Linked DNA regions of Homo sapiens: all the other regions are linked to region 2. The links come from fine-mapping of genetic effects on gene expression. A gene starts in region 2. Each other region holds a variant in brackets. All regions are shown on one strand. Distances are from middle to middle.

Region 1 (8,173 bases), 69 kb after region 2:
GGCTCGATGACATCAAGAATCTCTTCCATCTCCCCCAGAAACATCACCTGGGTGGGTTGGGGAGGGGAGTAGGGACAGAGGGGCAGCAGCTCACATCTCCCCCTACACATACACACACCTGACTGCCTTCTAGAGGCCGAGCCCTCCCAGCCTCCCTCTGGCGGGCATCAAAGCCCTTCTTCATACCTCCTTCTGGGTGCAGGTTTTTGGCCAGTATTTGAGCAGCCCCCGGATCACCTGTGGGAGATGAGACAGGAGTCACGCCTGCAGAGGTGAGAGGCTGCCTTAGCCCCCAGAGGTACTCACGTGCTCTGTCAGAGTGGCATCCTTCTCCAGGAACTGCACCACACAGTATGCCAGCTGCAGGGGGTGACAGGTGGAGGGAAGGAAGACAGGTCAGGAAGGCACCAGGCGCCAAGGACTTGCTGTCCAGGACAGAATGCCAAATACTGCTCACCCACGGCCTGTTACTTTCTTATTCACCAAGCATTTATCACCTGCCTAGGATGTACCAGGCATCACATTCAGTGTGCTGGGAATACAACTCTGATCTCGCGGGGAGTGGGGACAGTCAACAAACTCATCTTTATAAATTTTGCAAAAGGTTCCATAATATGGCTAGTGTGGTGGCTCACGCCTGTAATCCAAGCACTTTGGGAGGCCGAGGCAGCAGAATCACTTGAGCCTGGGAGTTTGAGACCAGCCTAGGTAACATAGCAAGACACTGTCTCTACAAAAAAAAAATTTTTTTTAATTAGCCAGGCATGTGGCACATACATCTGTGGTCCCAGCTACTCGGGAGGCTGAGAAGGGAGGACTGCTTGAGCCCAGCAGGTAGAGGCTTCAGTGAGCCATGTTCATACCACTGCTCTCCAGCTGAGGCAACAGAGTACGGTTTTGTCTCAAAAAAAAAAATTGTGTATCAAAATCTCCCATAATAGATTTGTGTATCCAAATATTTGGGAATATAGATGGAGAAGAATGTAATTCTGCCAAGGGAGGGTAGAGAAGAAAAGCCTGGCTTCACAGAGCTGATATCTGAGGTTAGCCTTAAAGCGCCAGTGGGAATTTTCTAAGGTAGATGGAACAGAATTATAAAGACAAAGAAGGTGAGATAGGATCCCTGGAGGATCTGACCTCCAGGACCCACTGGCTGCCCTGACTGTCTGGAGCTCCTGCTGCAGCAGGGACAGGCCTGGGCCTCACCTGGGCATGGAAGACAGACAGCGACTTGACAGAGTGCAGGGGGATCAGGACGCGAACCAGGAACTGCTTGTGCTCCGTCTTCAGGGGCAGCGCAAAGCCATTGATGATGCTGAGGAGGAGGCAGAAGAGAGGAAGAGGGCTCAGGTGACCTGGCCCCAGTCCCTCCTTCCAGAATCCTGAGCTCCAGCTGAGGCCCAGGGAGAATCACCTTCCTAGGATCTCCAGCAGCTCAGCCACACCATTGAAGTGCTCGAATTCATAGATGAACCTGCAAGAGAAGAACGCAGGTGGGCTCAAAGCAAGCAGGGTAGGCCCAGTGCCCCCTTAGGCATCCTGCCTGCCCACCCTCACCTGCACGGCACGCTCATCCAACTCTCCCCCAACCCAGAGGCTGCGCTCCCTTCCCAACATCCCAAACCAGGCCCCATTGAGATCCCCGCCCCCCCACACTGAAATGCCCTTCTCAGCCCAGCCACCTCTGCCACTGAGTCCCAAGCTCAAGGCTCTCTTGCCAGTCAACCAAGAGAATGACAAACACTTAGCACATCTACTCCGTACCATGTAAGTCTCAGAATTATCCAGGGAGATGGGGCTTAAGAAATCCATCACATGGATGAAGAAATCAAGACTCAGCGGTTAAATAAAACAACCCCAATGTTAATAGGCAGGGAATCTAATGAACTCCAAGGTGCAGGAGGACAGGGATCATGGCTCACCCATTTTGTAGCTAATAACAACTAATGTTTCAGAGTCCCGGCCTCAGTCCAGGAGCTATGCTGAGTGCTTTGCAGGCAAGGCCCCATGTCACCTCGATAATGGTCCCTGAGTTAGTACAAGCAGCATCCCCATTTTTATCTTATCTTTGAGATGGAATCTCGCTCTGTCGCCCAGGCAGGAGTGCAGTGGCGCAATCTTGGCTCACTGCAACCTCCACCTCCCAGGCTCAAGCGATTCTCCTGCCTCAGCCTCCTGAGTAGCTGGGATTGCAGGTGTTTACCACCACACTCAGCTAATTTTTGTATTTTTAGTAGAGACGGAGTTTCACCACGTTGGCCAGGCTGATCTTGAACTCCTGATCTCAAGTGATCTGCCCACCTCCAACTCCCAAAGTGCTGGGATTACAGGCATGAGCCACTGCACCCAGCCAGCATTCCCATTTTAAAGACGAGCAAACTAGGAGAGAGCTTAAGTAATTTGCCAAAGTTCACCCAAACGTTGGAACCAAACTCAAATGTAGGCCATACAGCTTCAGAGCCATGGTCTCAACTACAAGGCCACGTGAGCCTTGATGCCCAGTGGGTGCTGGTGCTCAGTGCATGTTTGCAGAAAGAATCTCTCTCTGGGTCCTTATGGCCTGGCATGATAAGGGTCAAATGATTTAGCTCCTAGGCCCCTGGACTGACCCAGTCCCTGCAAACCATTTCATCTCTCTTGGCCTCTACTTTCTCATCTGTAAAATGGAAATAAATACCCATTCTCTGTCAACTTCACAGGCTTTGTATAATCAATATGTAATACGTTACTGAGAAAGGGCTTGGAAAACAGAAGTTCTACAAGGGCCCCTGCAGCCCAGGAGCCTTTGCTGCAGTCTTCTTTTTTTTTGTTTTCTTTTCTTTTTTTTTTTGAGACACAGTCTCCCCGTTGCCCAGGCTGGAGTGCAGTGGCATGATCTCGGCTCACTGTAAACTCCACCTCCTGGGTTCATCCGTCTCGCTCTGTCGCCCAGGCCGGACTGCGGACTGCAGTGGCGCAGTCTCGGCTCACTGCAAGCTCCGCTTCCCGGGTTCACGCCATTCTCCTGCCTCAGCCTCCCGAGTAGCTGGGACTACAGGCGCCCGCCACCGCGCCCGGCTAATTTTTTGTATTTTTAGTAGAGACGGGGTTTCACCTGGGTTCAAGTAATTCTTGTCTCAGCGTCCCAAGTAGCTGGAATTACAGGTGCCCACCACCATGCCTGGCTAATGTTTGTATTTTTATTAGAGACGGGGTTTCACCATGTTGGCCAGGTTGGTCTCAAACTCCTCACCTTAGGTGATCCACCCACCTCGGCCTCCCAAAGTGCTGGGATTACAGGTGTGAGCCACCGCACATGGCCTTTGCCGCAGTCTTCTAACAGCCCTCTCACCCTCCCCAGGTCTCTGCTGGGCAGGCAGCAGCCACTCACCGGAGGAAGATGTGGTTGCACTGTTTGCGGATGTAGGCCCGGAGACCCAGGAACTTGCCATAGACCCGGTGCAGGATGGTCTTGAGGTACTCACGCTCCCGGGGATCCTCACTATCAAATAGCTCCAGGAGCTGTGGGAACCAGAGTCAGGGTCAGGGTCAGGGTCAGGGGAAAGGTCCACCCCAGGTTGCTTCCATCCTATCCCTGGCCCCTCAGAGAGCCTGCCCCTGCCTTGTGGTACCACCCAGCCTGGGCTCCCCACTTCACCATCAGGACAAACTTTTGATCCACATATCTCTTGGCCACGGAGGGCTGGAAGTCTGGGCTCTCCAAGAAACGCAGGAAAAACTCATATACCAGCTGGGGGAGGGGGACAGACAAAAAGGTGAGTTCAGTAACAGCCTCACCCACTCATTCCACCCTATGGCCCTCATCCAACTGTCTAGGGGCTAAGGAGGCCCTCTCCCCATGCCTTGGATCTCTTCTGAAACTTGGATCTCTGTCTTCCCCAACCCTTCAGACCTGCAGGTGTGGCCACGAAGGCTCAAGATTGGGCTCATCCTCTTCAGGGTCAAATTCAGGGTTCTCACTGGGCGGCAGAGTCCGGAAGATATTCACTGAGATCTGAGTGGCAGAGTTGGGGTTCATTAAGGAAAAGCCCTTGAAGACAGAAGCCAGGGAGTCTCTCATTCAAAGCTTTTTTTTTTTTTTTCTTTCCCAAGACAGGGTCTCGCTCTGTTGCCCAAGCTGGAGCGCAGTGGTACAATCTCGACTCACTGCAACCTCAACCTCCCAGGCAGGCTCAAGCGATCCTCCCACCTCAGCCTTCTGAGTAGCTGGACTACAGTAGCACACCACTATGCCCGGCAAATTTTTAAATTTTTGTAGTGATGCGGTCTCACTGTCAGGCTGGTCTTGAACCCCTTGCCTCAAGTGATCCTCTCGCCTTGGCCCAAAGTGCTGGGATTACAGATGAGAGCTGCTGCTCCCGGCCCTCATTCAAAGTTCTAATGGGTTGATTTCAGCATCTGCCCCAGCAAGCAGTTCATTCCTTGGGCAATCATCACCTGAACGCCTAGTTCGTGCAAGCCCTGGGCCAGGGGCTGGGAACCCAGGGGTGAATGGGACACATC[C/T]CTGCCTTCTAGGCAGGTGCAATCCAGTGGGGAGAACAAGGCTAGAAGCTGTGAGGTCTACGGGCAGGAAAAGGGAGATTTCCAGCTTGGTTATTGACAGCGGCTTCTTGGCAGAGGCGGCACCTGAGCCAGGCCATGGATGGTATGGGGTGTGGGGCAGGGCACTCCAGGTCTCAGGCAAGCATAAGCAAAGGTGTGGACGTGGGGCAGGCCCGGAGGCATTCAGTGGGTGTTGGGCAGCAGCAGGTCGGGGGGAAGGAAGACGTGGACTGAGGCCAAGCCGATGAGTACAGGGTTATTCTCCACGCAGGGGTCCTGCGGACAGGAAACGGGGCTCACACGCCCTCTCGGCCGGCCCTCGGAGCCTGGGTGGCAGGTGCTCACCATGCGGATGATGTCTGGGTAGACGGGCTCGATGAGGACACCCCGGGTGCTCCCCACACACTCCACCAGCTCGTTGAGGGCTGCCCGCTTCACCTCCTTCCCCTTGAGGTCGGCCACACAGTCCAAGAAGTCAAACATCACCCCACACTGGGCCAGCTTCCGGCTCAGCAGCTCGTGCAGCTCGGAAGCCGGCACATCTGGGGAGGAGAGGGCATCCTGGGCCTGGGCCCCAGCTCCCCCAGCTGCCCCAGCTGTGGGTGGGGCAGACCCTCCTAATCTCCACGGCTGCCTCTGCTGCCCCCAGGCCCCATGCTCTTGTGCCATCTCCTGCTCCTTGCAGACAGCAAACAACTACTGTCCCTTCCTCCATTCCTGGGGGTTGAGGGTTGCTTTTCTTCCTCCTAATCCAGGCTCAGAGAGTATGATGGCCTGAGTTTTAAAGCAAGATCACAAATCCTGGATGCAGCAGCTTTCCACAGGTGCCCCAAACAGCTGCTGCCTCCCTCTCAGGTGGCACCCTGTTCTAAGGGCCAGAAATGGGGAGGGGTTCAGGGCCAAGGATCTCTACGGTGTCCTCAGGCTTGGCCAGTCTGGCCCTATGGCCCAAGGCTGGGGAAGGGACCTATGTGGTGATCCCAGGGAACCCTGCCAAGCGCCTGCTCCAGGGATCTGGCAGCTGGCTGGGCTGATAGTGGCCCCCTGGAACCCAGGCTATGGGCCCCACCCTTGGCCTTGGTCTGCCCCTAGGGTGGCACCACCTTCGGATGTCCCACCTCTAAGGATGACAGGCCAGTCAGGCCATGTGTCAGCAGAGAGGGCTGGAGGGCTGGGGTCAGTTCTGATGGCGGAGAACCTAGCCTGGAGGGGTATCCAAACTCTCTCTCTTGGCAGCTGCCCGCTGCCTCCCACCCCTCCCCATGGCCCTGCTGGTCCCCTCGGGGGTTCGGTTCCCCCAGTGGCCAGCAGCCAGCTCACCTTTGAGCAGGGGCAGCGGTGTGAGCTCTTGCTGGTTGCTCTGATAGCGGAACTGAGAGGAGCTGTGGGAGCGGCGGGGCCGGGCTCTGCGGAGGGAACGGCGGGAGAAGCCGTCCACCTTGTCGGGTGGGGGCACAGGCGACAGCCCGGGGGAGGAGGGGCTAGTGGGGGTGCTTGCAGGGGGCAGCTTCGTCTCCATGGCGGTCAGGCGGCAGGGCAAGCTTTCAGAGCCCCGGGGGTTCTCTCTGGGCCTGGGAGGTGCTGGGTGAGACTGGACAGACTAACTTGGTCCCATCCTGTCCGGCCTTTGGGGGGGGGGCACAACCACAGTCCTGGGCCCCCCCCCAGGGCCTCCTGCAACTGCCCAGTCCTGGGGGGCAGACAGGGTAGAAAGGAGGATGGCTCAGGCCTCAGATCCTTCCTGGGGGTCCCGAAGAGTCCAGTTAGGGTTCCCACCCTGGCTCTTTTGAAAACGAAGTCAGGCAGAAAGATCAGCAAGAAAGAGACAGAGAAAGCCCATCAGTTCCTCAGGAGAGCCGGGAGGCTGCGTGGAGTGCCCAGGTCTTTTCCCTCCTATCCTTGCCCAGACCCTAAAATAGGGGTGCAGCCCCCTCCCATCCTGGACATGTCCCTCCCTTCTCTCAGACAGAAAGCCTCCAAAACAACCCCTCCCAGAATAGGGCCTATCCCCCAAGCCAGCCCCGACTCAGAATGGAGCCCCGATCGTCATCCCTGCCCCTTTCAGAATGGAACGCATCGCTGCTCCACTAATCCCGGCCACTTGGGACAACCCCAAGACTGGAGGTGCTGTCCCGATGCCACCCCGCTCCTAGAACCTGGCACCCTCCCCCACCTCAGCTCCTCCTTCCTGGCCCCCCAAACCTCATGGGGTGGGGGACACTCACTTCTCGAAAACCTAGACTTCGGTCGCCAACCCCCGGGGGCTGCCCGTAGGGAGGGCGACGGCCGTTCAGGGCCCCTTCGCAGCGGTTCCGCTCGGGGCGCTGGGGCTGGGCGGCGGCGCTCCTGGGTTCTCTCCCGGGCTCCGGGGGGGCGGCTAGAGCATGCCCCCAACTCAGCCCCGGGCCGGGACTGGGCGCTCGGCGGGCTCTGCACCGGCCGTCGCAGCGCGCGGATCTCCGCTGAAGTCCTGGGACTCCGACCCAACGCGGTGCAGCGCAACGGGAGCCCCGGCTCGGCTCCGTGCGCACCGGCACCCGCCGCCCAGCTGCTCAGGATGACATCAAGTCACCTCCCCCCACCCGGCCCGCACCTCCCCGCGGGCTGAAAGGGGGGGCTGCGTCAGGAAGGCCCGGGGCCGCTGGGAGATGTAGTCCCCGCGCCGTTTAAAGTGAGCTGCCAGACCAAAGGGGACACCCCTGAGGGCAGACTCGGGGGTGAAGGCCGAAGCTTTTGAAGCCAGAGAGCAGAGTGGGATGGGCTCTAGCCGGGGGCGGGAAGCCTGGATTCTAGAAGGGAGGCTGCATAGGGAAAGAGGAGGGCTTAGGAGTTTGCACCAGGAAAGTAGGGTGATGCCAGGACACTGACAGGAAGGAGTCGCAGCAAGCTACGCTAGGCCCACAGATTTGGCCTGGGCCTTCTATGCCCTAGGCCATCCCCCCAGGAACCTCACCCTTACCCCAGAACCACCAGACACTTCAGAAACCCCTTGGAAACCAGCACTGGACTAGTTAAAAGTCTGCGATGAGTCAGTGCTTGCTGGGAGGGGTGTGGTGCACCCAAGCCTGCTGGGAGATGCAGTCCATCCTCAGGCCTGCAGTCCCCCTCCCGTCCCTTGCTGTCTATGGTGACATCATGGTCTCCAGTTTAAAGGGCCAGTCTTGGAGTGGCAAAGCCCGAGAGGAGGAGGTTTTCTCCTTGAGCTGCCACCTCATCCCAGGCAGCCTGGCCTTCCCGGATGGACCTTTCAGCCCCCCTGGACCCTAAGATGTGCTGGGTGGGTCAGTGTCTCTTGCTCAAAATCCTGCTGCTGGCATGCAAGGCACAGGTGGGAGTCCAGGAGTTTGGCATGCTAACCAAAAGTTCCCAGCCTGCAGTCCTGGGCCCCCGTCCTAGGATCCTGGACCCCAACACTCTTTATAGCCCTGAACTCCATCCCGCTACACTGCTGTGAAATCTCCACCCTGAAATGTTGCCTGGATGAGCAGCTGGTCCATGGTGAGCAGTAGGAAAGGGTGATGAGACCAGATAATGAGGTCGGGGAGGGGACTAGGGGCCTTTTCAGAGTCTGCCCCATCTTGCTTTGGGTCTTGGTGACCACTCAGTGCTCCAGCGGAACCACCCAGCCATC
Region 2 (8,173 bases):
GGAGTTGGAGACTAGCCTGGCCAATGTGGAGAAACCCCGTCTCTGCTAAAAATACAAAAATTTTGCTGGGTGTGGTGGTGCCTGCCTATAGTCCCAGCTACTTAGGAGGCTGAGCCAGGAGAATCGCTTGAACCCAGGAGGCAGAGATTGCAGTGAGCTGAGATCCCACCACTGCACTTTAGCCTGGGTACAGAGCAAGACTCCATCGAAAGAAAGAAAGAAAGAAAGAAAGAAAGAAAGAAAGAGAGAGAGAGAGAGAAAGGAGGGAGGGAGGGAGGGAAACACAAGCCTGTTGTTACGTGAATAAAAATTAATCAGATATGTATTGAGTGCCTTTGTTAAGTTTAACAGATGTTTATGTGACTTAACTGTGGGCTGTGCACTGTTCTAAGCCCTTTACATAAATTACTTAAATCCTTCTATTATTATCCCCATTGGCCAGGCACGGTGGCTCACGCCTATAATCCCAGCACTTTGGGAGGCCAAGGCTGGCGGATCACCTAAGGTTGAGACCAGCCAGGCCAACATGGTGAAACCCCGTCTCTACTAAAAATGCAAAAATTAGCTGGGCATGGTGGCACACACCTGTAATCCCAGCTACTTGGGAGGCTGAGGCAGGAGAATCACTTGAACCTGGGAGGCGGAGGTTGCAGTGAGCCGAGATCGCACCACCGCACTCCAGCCTGGGAGACAGAGCAAGACTCTGTCTCAAAACAAAAAACAAAAAACAGGCCGCGTGCAATGGCTCACGCCTGTAATCCCAGCACTTTGGGAGGCTGAGGCTGGCAGATCACTTGAGGTCAGGAGTTCGAGATCAGCCTGGCCAACATGGTGAAACCCCATCTCTACTAAAAATACAAAAAATTAGGTGGGTGTGGTGGCGTACACCTGTAATTCCAGCTACTTGGGAGGCTGAGGCAGGTGAATCACTGGAACCCTGGAGACAGAGGTTGCAGTGAGCCAAGATTGTGCCACTGTACTCTAGCCTGGGTGACAGAGTGGGACTCCGTCTCAAAAAAAAAAAAAAAAAGGGACAGGGCTTCAGGGCATTCTGGCTTCTCCCAAAACAGTGGTGTGACTTTCTCTTCCCTATAATTCAGTTTATTCATTGGTGAAATGATGAAGTTGGTTGGGGGGAGCCCACCAGGAACCCAGGGCAGGTCCTATGGGAATGAGTGAAAAGTTTCTTTCCTCAGGAAAGTTTTGGGGTTCCTGGGTGGCAAGCTGCCTGCTGGACTTTAATTAATTAATTCATTAATTGAGCATCTATTACGTGAAGGCAGTGTTTGAAGCACTGGGGATCCTTCAAAGAACCAGTCCTGCCATGTAGGAGCTCATTGGTAGCTGTGGTATTTGGGAGGCCTCCAACCCTCCACCCACTGGGGCTGCTGGCTCTGGACTAATGGACCAGGCCTTTCCAAGCAGAGTGTGGAGCAGGACTGAGGCCTAGAAGAGAGAGGTTGTGTTCTCCCTGCAGCTCTGCCCCTCCCGTGGAGTGACCTTGCCCCTCTGGGCATTAGTTTCCTCACCCTCTTTTATGAACTGAAAGTTTGTGTTCCCCCCCCAAACTCACACACTGAAGTGCCAACCCTTGGTAAGATGGTATTTGGAGGTGGGGCCTTCAGGAGGTAATTAGGCTTAGATAAGGTTGTGAGGGTGGGACCCTACAATGGGATGAGTGTCTTTATAAGAAGGCAGAGAGACCGTGTGAGAATACGGCAAGAGTGCCACCATCTTCCAGCCAGGAAGAGGCCTTGCCAGGAGCCAAACCTACCAGCACCTTGCTCTTGGATTTCTCAGCCCTCAGAACTGCGAGAAATAAAAGGCTGTCATTAAGCCACTCAGTTTCTGGTATTGCATTATAGCAGCCTGAGCTGACTGAGACACCGTCTAAGGCGAGGTCAGATTGGATGGTCCCACCAGCCTGGGAGAAGTCTCCCACAGCCATTCCTAGTTAAACATTACCCACCCTACCTCCCTCCCTCCCTGCCACTCCCTCTCCCAGCTGCCTCCTCAGGGAGCCATAAACGCTGCCTTCTTTGGTCTTCTCCCAGGGCTGTGGTGTTCTGGGAAGAGCTACACCTGCTGTCTCACCTCTGCCAGAAGCCAGGGTCTGGAGAAGAAAGACTGGGGGTCTGGGGCAGGGGCTGGGATCTGGAGTGGGACACTCAGGCCTAGCCCCTCCACACACACACACACACACACAAGCACACACGGGTGTTTCTTCGTAGTCACATCATGCACAAGGTGCCTGCAGATCCTCCCAGGGGAGCTCATGGGCTGGCTTAATGAGCCCTTCAGGTGCCTGCCTCAGGCAAGACGCCCCAGCCTTCCTGGTTTCCAGGAAACAATAATTCAGAGAAACAGGGATGGCCTCACTGCGTGGGGCATCCCACTTCCGCCTCTGCTCCCAGGCCCCTCAGAAGCTAGGAGGGCAAGGCCCAGCTCTTATGCCCAATCTCACCCACCCAGGCATTTTAAATTAGGAGCCTGCATTAATAATCTTAGAATCCAGAATATGACACCACAAATTTCAGGAGGGGGAATCCTTGCCACATAGTACTTTACAATATCCCAAGAGCTTTCTTCTCATCTCATTCTTTCCCATCTTCAAAACAACTGTCAAATAGGTATCATTTCTTTGTGATCACCAGCATATCTTTGAAGACACTGAGGCTCCAGGTGATAAACTGGGTGAGTGGAGTGCCAGGATGGAGAGTCAAGTCTTTTGTCTCTGAAACCCAGACTTGTTTTATGCCTGGTTCTAGGGATAGCAGGGGACTGCACTCTCCACACCTCTGCCCATAACAGGCATCACTAATCGATCATGGTGTGGCAGACATTGCTAATCAACTGCAGTACTCTTTTTTACTAAGCTCAGAGGTGTCCATGAACTCTTTAAAACAACATTCCAGCCACCATCACCTATCAGAAGATCATATCTGTATTTGCCATTCTTGTGATACCACATCATCAGCCATGAGCCCTCAGGTCTCAGGTACAACTCCAAGATGCTCTAGTCACCAGACCATAGGACTCTACATACTGCATGCATGCTGTTCTTGGACAGGAATTACTGGCCCCTCTGGCCCCCAAACAGATGCCCCATCCAAGTGTCCCTCTTAGAGATACAACAAGCATGCAGGTATGCCCGGGGCTTCAGGGTTTGCTAGGTCTTTATTTTTTAATTTTTAATTAATTAATTTTTTTGAAACAAGGTCTTGCTCTATTGCCCAGGCTGGAGTGCAGTGGCAAGATTATAGCTCACTGCAGCCTTGAACTCCTGGGCTCAAGTGATCCTCTCATCTCAGCCTCCTGAGTAACTGGGAATACAGGTGTGTGCCACCATGCCCAGTTATTTTTTTTATTTTTAATATAGATAAGGTCTTGCTATGTTGCCCAGGCTGGTCTCAAACTCCTGAGCTCAAGTAATCCTCCTGCCTTGGCCTCCCAGAGTACTTGGATTACAGGCATGAACCACTGCATCTGGCCTAACAAAATTGTTTTTATCCCCACTTTACAGATTTGGAAACAGAAACACAGATGAAATTACGAACCCAAGTCACATAGCTTGGAAGCTGGGCTCCTAACCACTGGACATCAATCTTTCCACTGCTTCATGGTCTGTTGTATGAAAACAGTAATGTATCCATCTGTTCTATCCAACAGCCATTGCTTAATTTTGCAGACATGCTTCCATAGTGGTCTCAGAAGGTTTGGGGGTGGTTGTATTATCTGGCTTAGTTCCTGCAATGAGCCTGGGAGTGGGTAGTTGTACCATCCTCCAGATGAGAAAACTAGGGCTCAGAGAAGGAGAGTCACTTTCTGAAAGTTGGACAGCTCCAATGTGTGCTGTGATCCAGAGTTCCCCCAATTCCAGAGCTCAAGGGCTCTCTCTACCCCACATGAGCATCGGTCCCCACTGGCTTCTTCTCTCATCTCAGTCCCTGGCCGCCTGTCCTCCCTCCCCTAGAACACCCTCCTCATACCTGGCCTTTGGTCTTCCCTCCTCTCCACCCTCCACCATCCTCTTTCCAGAGAAGGGGCCCAACCGGAAGGCCAGTTCATGTTAGGAAATTCTAGCCACGTGAGCAAGCCTGAGCCAGGGATTCTGAGCAGCTGGTGGCTTTAGGAGAAACTGAAACTTGGCCCTCTGGGGGCGGAGTGGCCACTGGGGATTTAAAGAGCTGCCACTTCCTTAGGCCTCCAGAGGGCACTGGGAAGTCACAGCTGCTGAGGGACCACTCTGCTCCCCCGCCTAAGCCATGCACCTCTGTGGGGGCAATGGGCTGCTGACCCAGACAGTGAGTACAGGGGATTGGGGATCGGGGATGAGAAGGGGAGCTGGGATCCCGTCCTCAGTGCCCAGGCAGTGAGGGCTGCAGTCGGGAGCTCCTAGTCCCAGCTCTATACTCTGAGCAGTGTGACAGAGGGCTCTGCATGCCCCTCTCTGGGTCTCACTTTCCTCCCCCGAAGTCGGGATTGGATTGGAATGAGTTGTTTCCAGCTCTCACATTGCAGATCCAGCCTTCGGTTTAGAACTTGGCCTCTGTGTACTTGCTCTCTCCTAACGTACCTGGTCCCCCCTCACTACACTCACAGCAGCCTTTCCTTCCTTCTCCAAATAACCCAGGCCGGCTCATGCCTGTAATCCCAGCCCCTTGGGAGTCTGAGGCCGGCAGATAACATGAGGTTAGGAGTTCAAGATCAGCCTGGCCAACATGGCGAAACCCCGTCTCTACTAGAAATACAAAAATTAGCCAGGTGTGGCAGGGCACGTCTGTAGTCTCAGCTACTCGAGAGGCTGAGGCAGGAAAGTTGCTTGAACCCGGGAGATGGAGGTTGCAGTAAGCTGAGCTCATGTCACTGCACTCCAGCCTGGGTGACAGAGAGAGACTCTGTCTCAATAAAATAAAATAGGCCGGGCTCAGTGGCTCACACCTGTAATCCCAGCACTTTGGGAGGCTGAGGCGGGCAGATCACCTGAGGTCAGGAGATCGAGACCATCCTGGCCAACATGGTGAAACCCCGTCTCTATTAAAAATAGAAAAATTAGCTGGGCGTGGTGGAGGCACATGCCTGTAATCCCAGCTTCTCAGGAGGCTGAGGCAGGAGAATCACTTGAACCTGGGAGGCGGAGGTCGCAGTGAGCCAAGATCACGCCACTGCACTCCAGCCTGGGCGACAGAGACTCTGTCTCAATAAAATAAAATAAAATAAAATAAAGTAAAATAATAAATAAATTCCCTGGGCCATGGTTTCCCTTGGAGGCTCTGCTTATCTCACAGGAGCCCCCTTCACTCACCGTGGGTCCTGTCTCAGCCTTTAGTTTCTTGGTGCCCCAGTGTCTACAGTGAGCCCGCTGTGGACATGGCCCAAGGGAGCATATGGAGCAGGAGCCTAGGAGCATTCAGAATCTGCAGCCAGGGCGGCCAGGGCCTTGCCTGAGGTCCTTACCCTCAAAACACATACCCCAGAGAGACTTGGGGGCGGGGGCTGGGCTGTGAGCTCTCCAACAGTCCCTCTTGCTCTGACTTTGCAGAGCTCTGGACATTTGGGTAAAATATTTTATCTAAGTTTCATTGATCCCAGGGTACAAGGTGGTCACAACCTTTGAGTCCACTCTTCCACCGGAATAAACCCTTCATTCATTCATCCTTCGCTACCACCCCACTACAATGTGAGCAATTTCAGGGCAGGGATTTGTGTGTATTTTGTTTGCTATCATGTCCCTCTAGCTTACTGCCTGGAACATAGTAGGTGCTTATACATGTTTGTTGAGTAAGTGAATATCTGCTTTGGGCTTGAGCTGGGCATGAGCACAGAGAACCACATCTGCCCTCATGGAGCTCACAGTTAGGAAAGTTCACACCTTGGTGTGGAAATCATGGCAATGAGAAGAATGGAAGCTGAGCTTTATGGCACGCCGGCTCTGGGCTGCCTGCCGCATGGGCTTTAACCCTCTGCTGTGGTGCTTCCATTGCAGGGATGGGGCGATTGGGTTCAAGAATATGGGGCTCGGCTGGGCACGGTGGCTCACACCTGTAATCCCAGCACTTTGGGAGGCCGAGGCTGGTGAATCACCTGAGGTCAGGAGTTCAAGACCAGTTTGAGATGAGCCTGGCCAACATGAGGAAACCCCATCTCTACTAAAAATACAAAAATTGGCCAGGAATGGTGGCAGGTGCCTGTAGTCCCAGCTACTTGGGAGGCCGAGGCAGGAGAATTGCTTGAACCCGGGAGTCAGAGTTTGCAGTGAGCCAAGATAGAGCCGCTGCACTACTCCAGCCTGGGCAACAGAGTGAGACTCTGTCTCAAAAAAAAAGGAAAAAAGAATGTGGGGTTTGAAGTTGGCTCTGTCTGAGTTTGAATCTCAGGCTTCCCATCTTCCCTGCTTGCCCTCCCACCCTCCACATGAGCGGTGAGCAGGACACAGGGGTGAGGCTGGCGTTCCAACAAGGTGTGCAGTGCCTGCTATAGGGGGTGTGGGTGCCAAGGGAGCTTCTGGGAGATAAAAGACCCTTGGGAACTTGACTCAAGGGGAAAGACTTGGCTTTACAAATGGCGGGCCAGGACGGAGGGCACAAGGCCTGGCTGGGCCCCCTGAGTCCTCTGCCTCATGCCCCACAGGACCCCAAGGAGCAACAAAGGCAGCTGAAGAAGCAGAAGAACCGGGCAGCCGCCCAGCGAAGCCGGCAGAAGCACACAGACAAGGCAGACGCCCTGCACCAGGTGTGGACAACCCCTAACCCCTTTCCTTGTCTCTGGCTCCACTTACTGGCCCAGCCACCTCTTCTCCATCCCACCTTTGAGCAGACCTCCCCCAAACTCCTGTATTTTTCTAGGTCACCTGAGTTTGGGATGAGAAAAGGATCCTGTGGCTGACATTTGGAAAGTTCTGGGTGTTGAGTACAAACCATGTGCCAGGTACACACCAGGCTCCAGGGACACAAAGGGTCATCCTCAGCCCAGCCGTGTCCTAAGGTGTCCGCAGTCTAGGGGAAGGAAGACAGGAAGTGGAGGCAAATAGGGAGACCCCAACACAATGGCCAGCTGAGACACTGGTTAAAATGCAGATTCCAGGCTGGGCACTGTGGCTCACACCTGTAATCCTAGCACTTTGGGAGGCTGAGGCTGGAGGATTGTTTGAGCCCAGGAGTTCAAGACCAGCCTGGGCAATATAGTGAGACTCTGTCTCTACAAAAATTAAAAAATAGTTAGCTGGGCGTGATGGTGCACACCTGTAGTCCCAGCTACTCAGGAAACTGAGGCAGGAGGATCGCTTGAGCCCAGAAGTTCAAGGCTGCAGTGAGCCATGATTGTACCACTGCATCCAACCTGGGCAACAGATTGAGACCCTGTCTATAGAAAAAAAAAAGTGGATTATTCTTCCTCTGCCAGGTCCCACCTCATGAGGCCAGGTGGGCCCAGGGACCTGCACGGTGATTTGTGATTAATCACCTGGGGGTCAGAATTCAGGAGGTGACCAAGACCATACTGTGAGAACTCTGGTTCAGGGTTAAAATGGGCAGGGTTTCCAGTCCCAGTTGCAAGTTGCTTCCTTTACTGAGCTTCATGCTCATCTGAAAATACCATAAACAGTGGCTTAAACAATAGACATTTATTTCTCACAGTTTTGGAGGCTGGGAAGTCCAAGATCAAGGTGCCAGCCAATTCAGTTCCAGATGAGGGTGCTCTTCCTGACTTGTAAGTGGCTGCCTTCTCGCTGTGTGCTCATGGCCTCTCAGTGCATGTGAGAGGACAGAGTGATCTCTTTCCCTTCCTCTCCTTTTTGGGATTTTTGTTGTTGTTGTCATTTTTGAGACAGAGTCTCACTCTGTTGCCCAGACTGGAGTGCAGTGGCGCCACTTGGCTCACTACAACCTCTACCTCCTGGGTTCAAGTGATCCTCCTGCCTCAGCCTCCTGAGTAGCTAGGATTACAGGCATGCGCCACTACGCCCACCTAATTTTTGTATTTTTAGCAGAGACGGGGTTTCACCATGTTGGCCAGGCTGGTCTCAAACTCCTGGCTTTAAGTGATCTGCCCGCCTCAGCCTCCCAAAGTGCTGGGATTACAGGCGTGAACCACTGCACCTGGCCCCCTCCTTTTGTTTTAATTTTTTATTCATTTATTATTTATTTATTCTTTCTTTTTTATTTCTTCATATTCT
Region 3 (8,173 bases), 92 kb before region 2:
AAGTACAATGGCGCGATCTCAGCTCACTGCAACCTCTGCCTCCTAGGTTCAAGTGATTCTCCTGCCTCAGCCTCCCGAGTAGCTGAGATTACAGGTGCACACCACCATGCCCAGCTAGTTTTTTTGTATTTTTAGTAGAGACAGGGTTTCACTATGTTAGCCAGGCTGGTCTCGAACTCCTGACCTCAGGTGATCCGCCCACCTCGGCCTCCCAAAGTGCTAGGATTACAGGCATGAGCCACTGCACCTGGCCTAACGTTCCTCTTTAAATGCTCGTCCTGTCCAGTTCCTCATGTGCATTACCACCTTACCAAGCGGAAATCCCCTCACTGATGAGTTAAAGATCTTTTTTTTTTTTTTTTTTTTTTTGAGACAAGGTCTCACTATGCCCCCAGGCCGGACTGCAAAGATGCAAGCAGGGCTCGAATTCCTGGGCTCAAATGACCCTCCCGCCTCAGCCTCCCAAGTAGGGGGTACTACAGGCAAGGGCCACCACAACCAGCTAATTTTATTTTTTTTTAATTTTTAGTAGTGAGGAGGTTTCACTATGTTGCCCAGGCTGGTCTCAAACTCCTGAGCTCAAGTGATCCTCTCAGGCTCACTTTGGGAGCTCAGCCTCCCAAAGTGCTGGGATTACAGGCATGAGCCACCGCACCCGGCCTAATAAATCTTTGTTACGTGTTCATTCTATATTTAGACGTAGGTTTTAACTTTTTGAAAAGTACACTTTGACAAAACATATGATTTTTAAAAATGCTTTAAACTTATGCATGTATATGTACATCTAGATGTATGAAGTTACCGTTACATAAAGAAGGGACCTAAAAGATGCCAAGTCACCAAACTGGGGAAGGGGGTACTTCAGTGGTGGGGATGCAGCAGGGAGACTGTTACATTTTCCTCTGCATGCTTGTGTATTATGCAAATATTTTACAAGAACATATTCATATATACATACATACATATATGTGTGTGTATATATATATATATATATTTTTTTTTTTTTTTTTTTCTTGAGATGGAGTTTTGATCTTGTTGCCCAGGCTGCAGTGCAATGGCACAATCTCGGCTCACCGCAACCTCCACCTCCTAGGTTCAAGCGATTCTCCTGCCTCAGCCTCCCGAGTAGCTGGGATTACAGGCATGCGCCTCCATGCCCGGCTAATTTTGTTTTTGTTCTTGTTTTTTTTTGAGACACAGTCTTGGTCTGTCGCCCAGGCTGGAGTGCAGTGGCTCGATCTTGGCTCAGTGTAACCTCTGCCTCCTGGGTTCAAGTGATTCTCCTGCCTCAGCCTCCCAAGTAGCTGGGATTACAGGCATGCACCACCATACCCAGCTAATTTTTGTATTTTAGTAGAGACGGGGTTTCACCATGTTGGTCAGGCTGGTCTTGAACTCCCAACCTCGTGATCCGCCCGCCTCAGCCTCCCAAAGTGCTGGGATTACAAGCGTGAGCCACTGCGCCCAGCTTAATTTTATATTTTTAGTAGAGACAGGGTTTCTCCATGTTGTTCAGACTGGTCTCAAACTCCCGTCCTCAGGTCATTTGCCTGCCTCAGCCTCCCAAAGTGCTGGGATTACAGGTGTGAGCCACCGCACCCAGCCCATATTCATATATTACATGTATATAATTTTTAAAAATTAGGAGCTAGGGGTAGGCACAGTGGCTCACACCTCTAATCCCAGTACTTTGGGAGGCCAAAGAGAGTGGATCACCTGAGGTCAGGAGTTCAAGAGCAGCCTGGCCAACATAGTGAAATACCATGTCTACTGAAAATACAAAAATTAGCTGGGTATGGTGGCAGGCGCCTGTAATCCTGGCTACTTGGGAGACTGAGGCATGAGAATCACTTGAACCCGGGAGGCGGAGGTTGCAGTGGGCCGAGATCATGCCACTGCACTCCAGTCTGCGCGATAGAGTGAGACTCTGTCTCAAAAATAAAATAAAATTAGGAGCTAGGAACTTTAATGTATAAAAGTTCATTTGTATTCAAATGAGGACTGAGGTCCAAACAATTGTTTCAACAGTGGGACCACAGCTGGGCCTTGGGGCATTACCCCTTTCATGTGGTTAGGATGGGGCTCTGAAGAACTATTGTGCTTGTCTGGAGACTGGGCAGCAAGCACAGATGGTGGGTGCAGGCTCTAATCCCACTGCTGGGAGGCAGCCTGTGGGTCTTGGGCTGACCTGGGACCTAACTTTTGGGGCAAACAGTTGGGCAGGAGGCAGTGGGGTGGCTGAGTTCGAAATCAAGTCCTCTCCTCCTCCCTCCTCTTCTCCTGCTTCAATCCCTGGGAGCTTTCATGTCACTCCACACCATTTCTGGCTGTTTTATTGGCATATTTTGTTGACGGCCCTGGAGTTCTCACCTTTTTCTTTTCTTTTCTTTTTTTCTCTGTCACCCAGCTTGGAGTACAGTGGCATGATCATAGTTCACTGCAGCCTGGGACTCCTGGGGTCCAGCAATCCTCCCATCTCAGCCTCCTGAGTAGCTGGGACTAAAGGCACACACCACCACACTCAGCAAATTTTTTTTTTTTTTTTTTTAGAGATGGGGTCTTGCTGGCCAGGAGCGGTGGCTCACACCTGTAATCCCAGCACTTTGGGAGGCCAAGGCAGGCGGATCACCTGAGGTTGGGAGTTCAAGACCAGCCTGACCAACATGGAGAAACCCTGTCTCTACTAAAAATACAAAATTAGCTGTGCGTGGTGGCACATGCCTGTAATCCTACTTGGGAGGCTGAGGTAGGAGAATCGCTTGAATCCAGGAGGCGGAGGTTGCGGTGAGCCGAGATCGCGCCATCGCACTCCAGCCTGGGCAACAAGAGTGAAACTACATCTCAAAAAAGAGAGAGATGGGGTCTTGCTGTCTCCCAAGCTGGTCTTGAACTCCTGGCCCAAGACAGTCCTCCCACCTGGGCCTCTGAAAGTGCTGGGGTTGCAGGTGTGAGCTACCGCACCCAGCCTAGTTCTCATCTCTCACATGCATGGAGGAGATTTCTTCCTCCTGGCTTGCATGTGACCCTGCTCACTCAGCACAGCCTCAGGTAGTATCGGATCTTCGTTTCAGTATTGACTCTCTCCCTCACTGGCTATAACAGCTTGAGGAAGACCATCCTCCCTCTGCCTCAGACTCAAGTGTCAAATAGGACTTATGCCACCAGCCCCAGCTGTCTCATGGGACTCTTAGACTGACAGAGGTGAAAATGCTCCAAGCACCTGAAGGTGGCGGAGCAGAAAGCTGACCAGCATCAGGTCCTGTAAGAACATCTTGGGAGAGAATGGAAAAGCCAGGTGCCTTCTGGGCCACACCTGGGAAGGGCACGGGGAAGGTCCCGGGACAGCTCTGAAGAATCTGTTGATCCTTCCCTTCTCGTAATTCCTCTCCACCAGAGGGTAGAGCAAATACAGGCCTCCCCTCACCTGGGAATGCCTTCCAGCTATGCAGCTGGGTCCTCATCTCTCATCTGCCTAAGACTTGCTGTAAATCTAGACCACGCCCCTCAACTTTTCTGAGCCCCAGTTCTTCATCTGTAGACTGTGTTCACACTGCCTCCGTTTTGGGAAACTTGAGACATGCATAAAAGCGTCTAGAGTGAGTATGGGATAACTAGGGCTGCTGCCCCTTCGCCATTGCCATGGGCCCCCACTGATCTCACAATTCAAAGCACCCCTACCACCCGTGAGGCACTCCTGTGTTGGCTGGAATCAGCCTGTGTTCTAGAATCTTGTCCCCTCCACTGTCCTCCTGGTTCTAGAATCCCACTGCTATTCCATACCAGGCACTTTAGAACCAGAGACTCTGCTGCTTTTCCTGGGCAGGGCCTGCTTGCTCCAGCTCTCAAGTCTGACTTGCATCTACACTGCGGGCAAGATGTGGCTGCAAGACCGCAT[C/T]GCCACGTTCTTCTTCCCAAAAGGCATGATGCTCACCACGGCTGCGCTGATGCTCTTCTTCTTACACCTGGGCATCTTCATCAGAGACGTGCACAACTTCTGCATCACCTACCACTATGACCACATGAGCTTTCACTACACGGTCGTCCTGATGGTAGGCTCAGGGCAGGGACGCAAGGGCTGGCTGTGGGAGACCCGAGGGGCTGATGGAAACCCCACTGTTGTGCGAGGGGGCCACTCTCCCACTGGATGGGCCTACAGTTCTCCCAGGTGATCAGCATCTGCTGGGCTGCCATGGGGTCACTCTATGCTGAGATGACAGAAAACAAGTACGTCTGCTTCTCCGCCCTGACCATCCTGAGTGAGTGGCAGGAGTGGGAGGGTGCAAGAGGGAGCGGGGAGCTTTGGAACCCTGAGATGTGGCAAGGAGTAGCCAGGGAAGGGTACTGGGGCTCATGGGGGGCTCTGTCCCCCGCCCAGTGCTCAACGGAGCCATGTTCTTCAACCGCCTGTCCTTGGAGTTTCTGGCCATCGAGTACCGGGAGGAGCACCACTGAGGCCTGGGGAGTCGGAACAGGGCTAAGGAGGGGGAAGCAAAAGGCTGCCTCGGGTGTTTTAATAAAGTTGTTGTTTATTTCCACCTGCCAGCTCCTTCATGGGGCGAGGGGTCGGAGGCTGGAGACCCGGGAGGAAAGCAAGTCAAGACAAATGCTTGACCCACGGGGACTCCAGGCCTGGCCTGCAGCCACTCTGGTGGACTTGGCTTTGGGTCTGGGGTCTTAGTGTCTTAGGCTTGAGGGAGAGGGGCAGTGAAGAGGTGCCCTCAGCCTCCCCATTACCCCGCCTCTCCTCCACAGAACCCACATCCTAGGCTGGCCTAGCCACAAGCAAGGGGGCTCAGGAGGGGCCCACGCGGATGTGAGGGTTCATGAGTGGGTCCAGGTTGGGATCGCTGTCAGCTGCGGCCCGGCCTAGGCGAGACATGAGGGCAAGGAGGGCCAGGAAGCCCAGCAGTCCCAAGAGTAGCAGCAGCCCCGCCCGCTGGAGCAGGGTCAGCGGCCGCTTCCGAGACCCAGCCCGGCTCCTGGGGGGATGAGGGGAAAATCAGGTCAGGCCCCAGTCCCTGGTGGCCCCCGCGGCTGGAGAGAAGCCCTGGTCACCACCCATTCCTGAGCCTCCATCTCCTCGTCTGTGCCTCAGGGATGATCACTCCTGCACCTGCCACCATAGGGCGTTATTGTGCAGCTCAAACCAGCTGAGGCGCACGACTGTATTCTGGAAACCACAGTGTGTCAGACGTCGGGGAGAATTACAAAGATTAGGGGGTGTCAGATCGGGAAGGGGCCTCAAAGAGCCTGAGTTCAAACCTCCTGTGTAGGAGGCATAGAGACAGTCCCAGAGAGAAGCAAAACACAGCTTCTGCTGCACAGCCAAGGCCTCTCTGCACAGCCCCAGCACCAGGTACTGTTACTCCCCAGAACAAGCCCCTTTTGTCATGAAACCATCCCTTCCAGGACCTCTGGCTCCCATTCCCTCTCCACCCCTTCCTGGCATTCCGCCCTGCCTGACCCTGTGTACCTTAGCAGCCGGGCCAGCCAACCCAAGGCCGGCCGACGTCGGTACTTGTCATCGTCACAGTCTCCATGGAGGCCTGGTGTCCGGTCATCATCCCGCGTATCATACACCTTCCTAGGGGCTACAGGGTGGAGCCACTAGCATCAATAGACTCAGGAAAACTGGCCGCTTTGGGGAGGGCTAGGGGGATCACCTGCTCTCCTCAGTCTGACAGAACATCTCAGAATTGTGAGGAGGTAATGGCTGTGCCTGGATTAAGGAAAGGTTCCTCCGGGTGGGTCTCTGGATCCTCAAGCTCCCCCTATACAAACCATTCCACCCTCTTCCTATCCTTCTGCGGCCTGGATAACTCCCAGGCTCACCGTGAGTCAAGGGCTCAGGATTGCCCATGTGGATCACTGTGTGCTGCTCGGGCCGGCCTGGGGAAGCTGGGGGCCGGGGGGCCTGGCTGTAGAAGGCTGGGGCAGCAGAGGCGCTGTCTACCTCCTCTGGTCCAGGGGTACTGCTGGCTGTGGGTGGAAAGAGAGCCGTCAGCAGAAGCAGTGCATAGAGCTCAGGGGTAGAGCATGTGACTGCAGACCAAGGGAGCTGTCAGCAGAGCAGGGAGGCTAAAGCCCAAACAGTCGGTGGAAGCCACCACTTACCATTAAAACTAGACCAGTCAGAGAAGTCAGACGTGTTGAGGGGCTCGGGCTCTGGGCTCACCACCTCATCGATCTGGAGGAAGGAATCTGGGTCACCAGGCTGCCTAGTATTGTCCCCACCCACCCATCTGACTCAGGTGGGGCCCAGGGCAGATAGATGGTCAGACAGACGAGGGACTCTCACCAGAGGGAGGCCCAGTCCTGCCCGGGCCCAGTTGACTGTGGCCAGCTTCTCTCTCAGTGCGGAGGCCACGGGGCCAGCCAGGTTGGTTGGGGGGAAGATGGGGCCATTGCAGCTGGGGCACTGATAGCCGGCAGGTGCCGTGTTTCGGGGTAGCTGGGCAGCACGTTCATTGAGGCAGGCCCAGTGAAAGAGATCTTAGGGCCCATGAGACAGGGGAGAAGAGACATGAGGAAGAAGACACTTAGGGCTCCTAGCCTAGCAATAGTCCCCAGACCATTGCAGGACATATGGACACATGTGTGTGTGCCAGAGCCTTCTCCTCCCCGTCCTGTTCCCTAAAATGTCAGTCTTCTTGGCTACCACCATCTAAGTCCAGGCAGGTGCTACCAAGCTGTCCAGCTCACAGGGGTAAGTTTGGGTAGGAAGAAAACGCCACCTCCCCTTTCAGTCCTTTCAATGAGTCCTCTCTGGGCCTGCACTCATCATATTCTTTGGGCTAATGGCTAATAATGAACAGTTTCAGAAAAGGTTCCTCGATACACACACAGGCACACATATACATGTACACATCCCTGGGCACAAATGTACATGTCCTTATAAGCACATAATCAAACACAAGTGGCATTCCCTATATCTACACTATGGGTACAGGAGCCCTCACACATACACATCTATACACTCACAGGTTTGCTAACAGGCACCCTCAACCATGCATTCTCTTGCACTCCCACAACACACCTGTGTTCATATGTTCACATACATACATTTACCCATTCATTCACCCCAAGTACAGATCAACACACTAACACTCATTTAAACACACAATGTACATTAAGTGCCTGCAAGTACACACATGCACTCACAAGGAGAAACACATATGGAGCTGACTCTTGCATGAGCTCCTTCAAAAACTGGAGCTAAGGCTCTTACCCCAGATTCAGGTCAAAGTCATGACACATATGTCTGCTGACTTCTTTTAGCTAACTTTAATGTGGGAAACTCACTTCCTCTCTGTTTAGCCTTGGAATCAGTGGTGGATCCTGAATATCTGAAAGCAACATGCCGGTCTGGCTAGCTAATAGTCACGGCCACCAGCATACCCGTAAGCTTGACTGGTTCTCGCTGAAACCTCCAGATTGGCAGGGCTTAATTTTTAGGAAAGAGGAACTAGGAGCTTTAATTTTTAGGAAAGACAGTGAGGCCTAGAAAGGAAGAATAACTTGCCTGAACTTACACAGCAGGTAAGGAACTTTAACAGGACTAGAATCTGGGCTCTGAGACTCGGGGGACTCACTGTCCTGCTGCTTGAGGAGGGCCTGGAAACCAGTCACCAAGCTGGCCCCTGAGGCTGGCCTGATCCCCCCGAGGTGCCAAGGCCTCACCATAGCAGACAAGGCGGGTCGTCTCTCGGCTGGCCAGGGGTATGTTGCACAGGCGGCAATTGGGGTTGTAGTCGCTATCTTGGAGCCATTGCAGGTAGGACTGGACGATGCACTGGAGTGGGAGAGAGATGTCACAACTGGTGCTGGGGCTGCTCGGCCTATCACCCCAAGGTCCGACTGTCTCTTTTTCTCTAGCCACAGAGGAGACTCATCCTTTCGTTTGTTTAATCAATAAATATTTATTGAGCACATACTGTGCACCAGACTCTCTCTTGGGAACGGGGGATATATCAGTGAACAAAATAAATCAAGTCCTTGCCCTTGTGGGGCTTACATTCTAGCGCGGGGCCCCTCATGGATTTGGAGGAAGCCAATACCGCCTTGCCCACCCAGTGCCCTGCTCAGTCGCTCCCCTGAAGGCCCCACCTTGGCGTGATTGGCTACCAGGCAGTGCTCGCAGACGTTGACCCGATGTTCGAAGCAGAACAGGTTG

The links. PIP is the estimated chance that this variant, and not a neighbour inherited with it, causes the effect.
Region 1: its variant is fine-mapped to the expression of BATF2 in whole blood (TOPMed, PIP above 0.99).
Region 3: its variant is fine-mapped to the expression of BATF2 in whole blood (INTERVAL, PIP 0.90).

The regions. Positions count from the first base shown.
Region 1 is chr11:64,923,623-64,931,795 of GRCh38, reverse strand. PPP2R5B (protein phosphatase 2 regulatory subunit B'beta) reads right to left here and starts at 7,107. Exons shown (of 14, transcript NM_006244.4): 1 at 6,768-7,107; 2 at 5,863-6,325; 3 at 4,888-5,084; 4 at 3,893-3,994; 5 at 3,638-3,730; 6 at 3,371-3,501; 7 at 1,415-1,474; 8 at 1,207-1,315; 9 at 307-360; 10 at 187-237; 11 at 1-47. The coding sequence starts at 6,061. RefSeq lists enhancers at 3,201-4,400, 7,349-7,518, 7,659-7,728, 7,349-8,146 and silencers at 6,809-6,918, 7,019-7,238. The variant C/T (reference allele first, on the strand shown) is at 4,504.
Region 2 is chr11:64,993,007-65,001,179 of GRCh38, reverse strand. BATF2 (basic leucine zipper ATF-like transcription factor 2) reads left to right here and starts at 4,209. Exons shown (of 3, transcript NM_138456.4): 1 at 4,209-4,304; 2 at 6,631-6,732. The coding sequence starts at 4,266. RefSeq lists a cis regulatory region at 1,927-3,065 and an enhancer at 4,310-4,810.
Region 3 is chr11:65,084,734-65,092,906 of GRCh38, reverse strand. It overlaps ZFPL1 (zinc finger protein like 1), which reads right to left. Exons shown (of 8, transcript NM_006782.4): 2 at 8,107-8,173; 3 at 7,681-7,792; 4 at 6,299-6,492; 5 at 6,115-6,187; 6 at 5,833-5,979; 7 at 5,474-5,591; 8 at 4,509-4,979. The coding sequence ends at 4,793. It overlaps CATSPERH (catsper channel auxiliary subunit eta), which reads left to right and starts at 3,797. Exons shown (of 3, transcript NM_001282448.2): 1 at 3,797-4,049; 2 at 4,157-4,256; 3 at 4,376-4,531. The coding sequence starts at 3,876. The coding sequence ends at 4,452. RefSeq lists a silencer at 2,839-3,011 and an enhancer at 7,382-7,966. The variant C/T (reference allele first, on the strand shown) is at 3,896.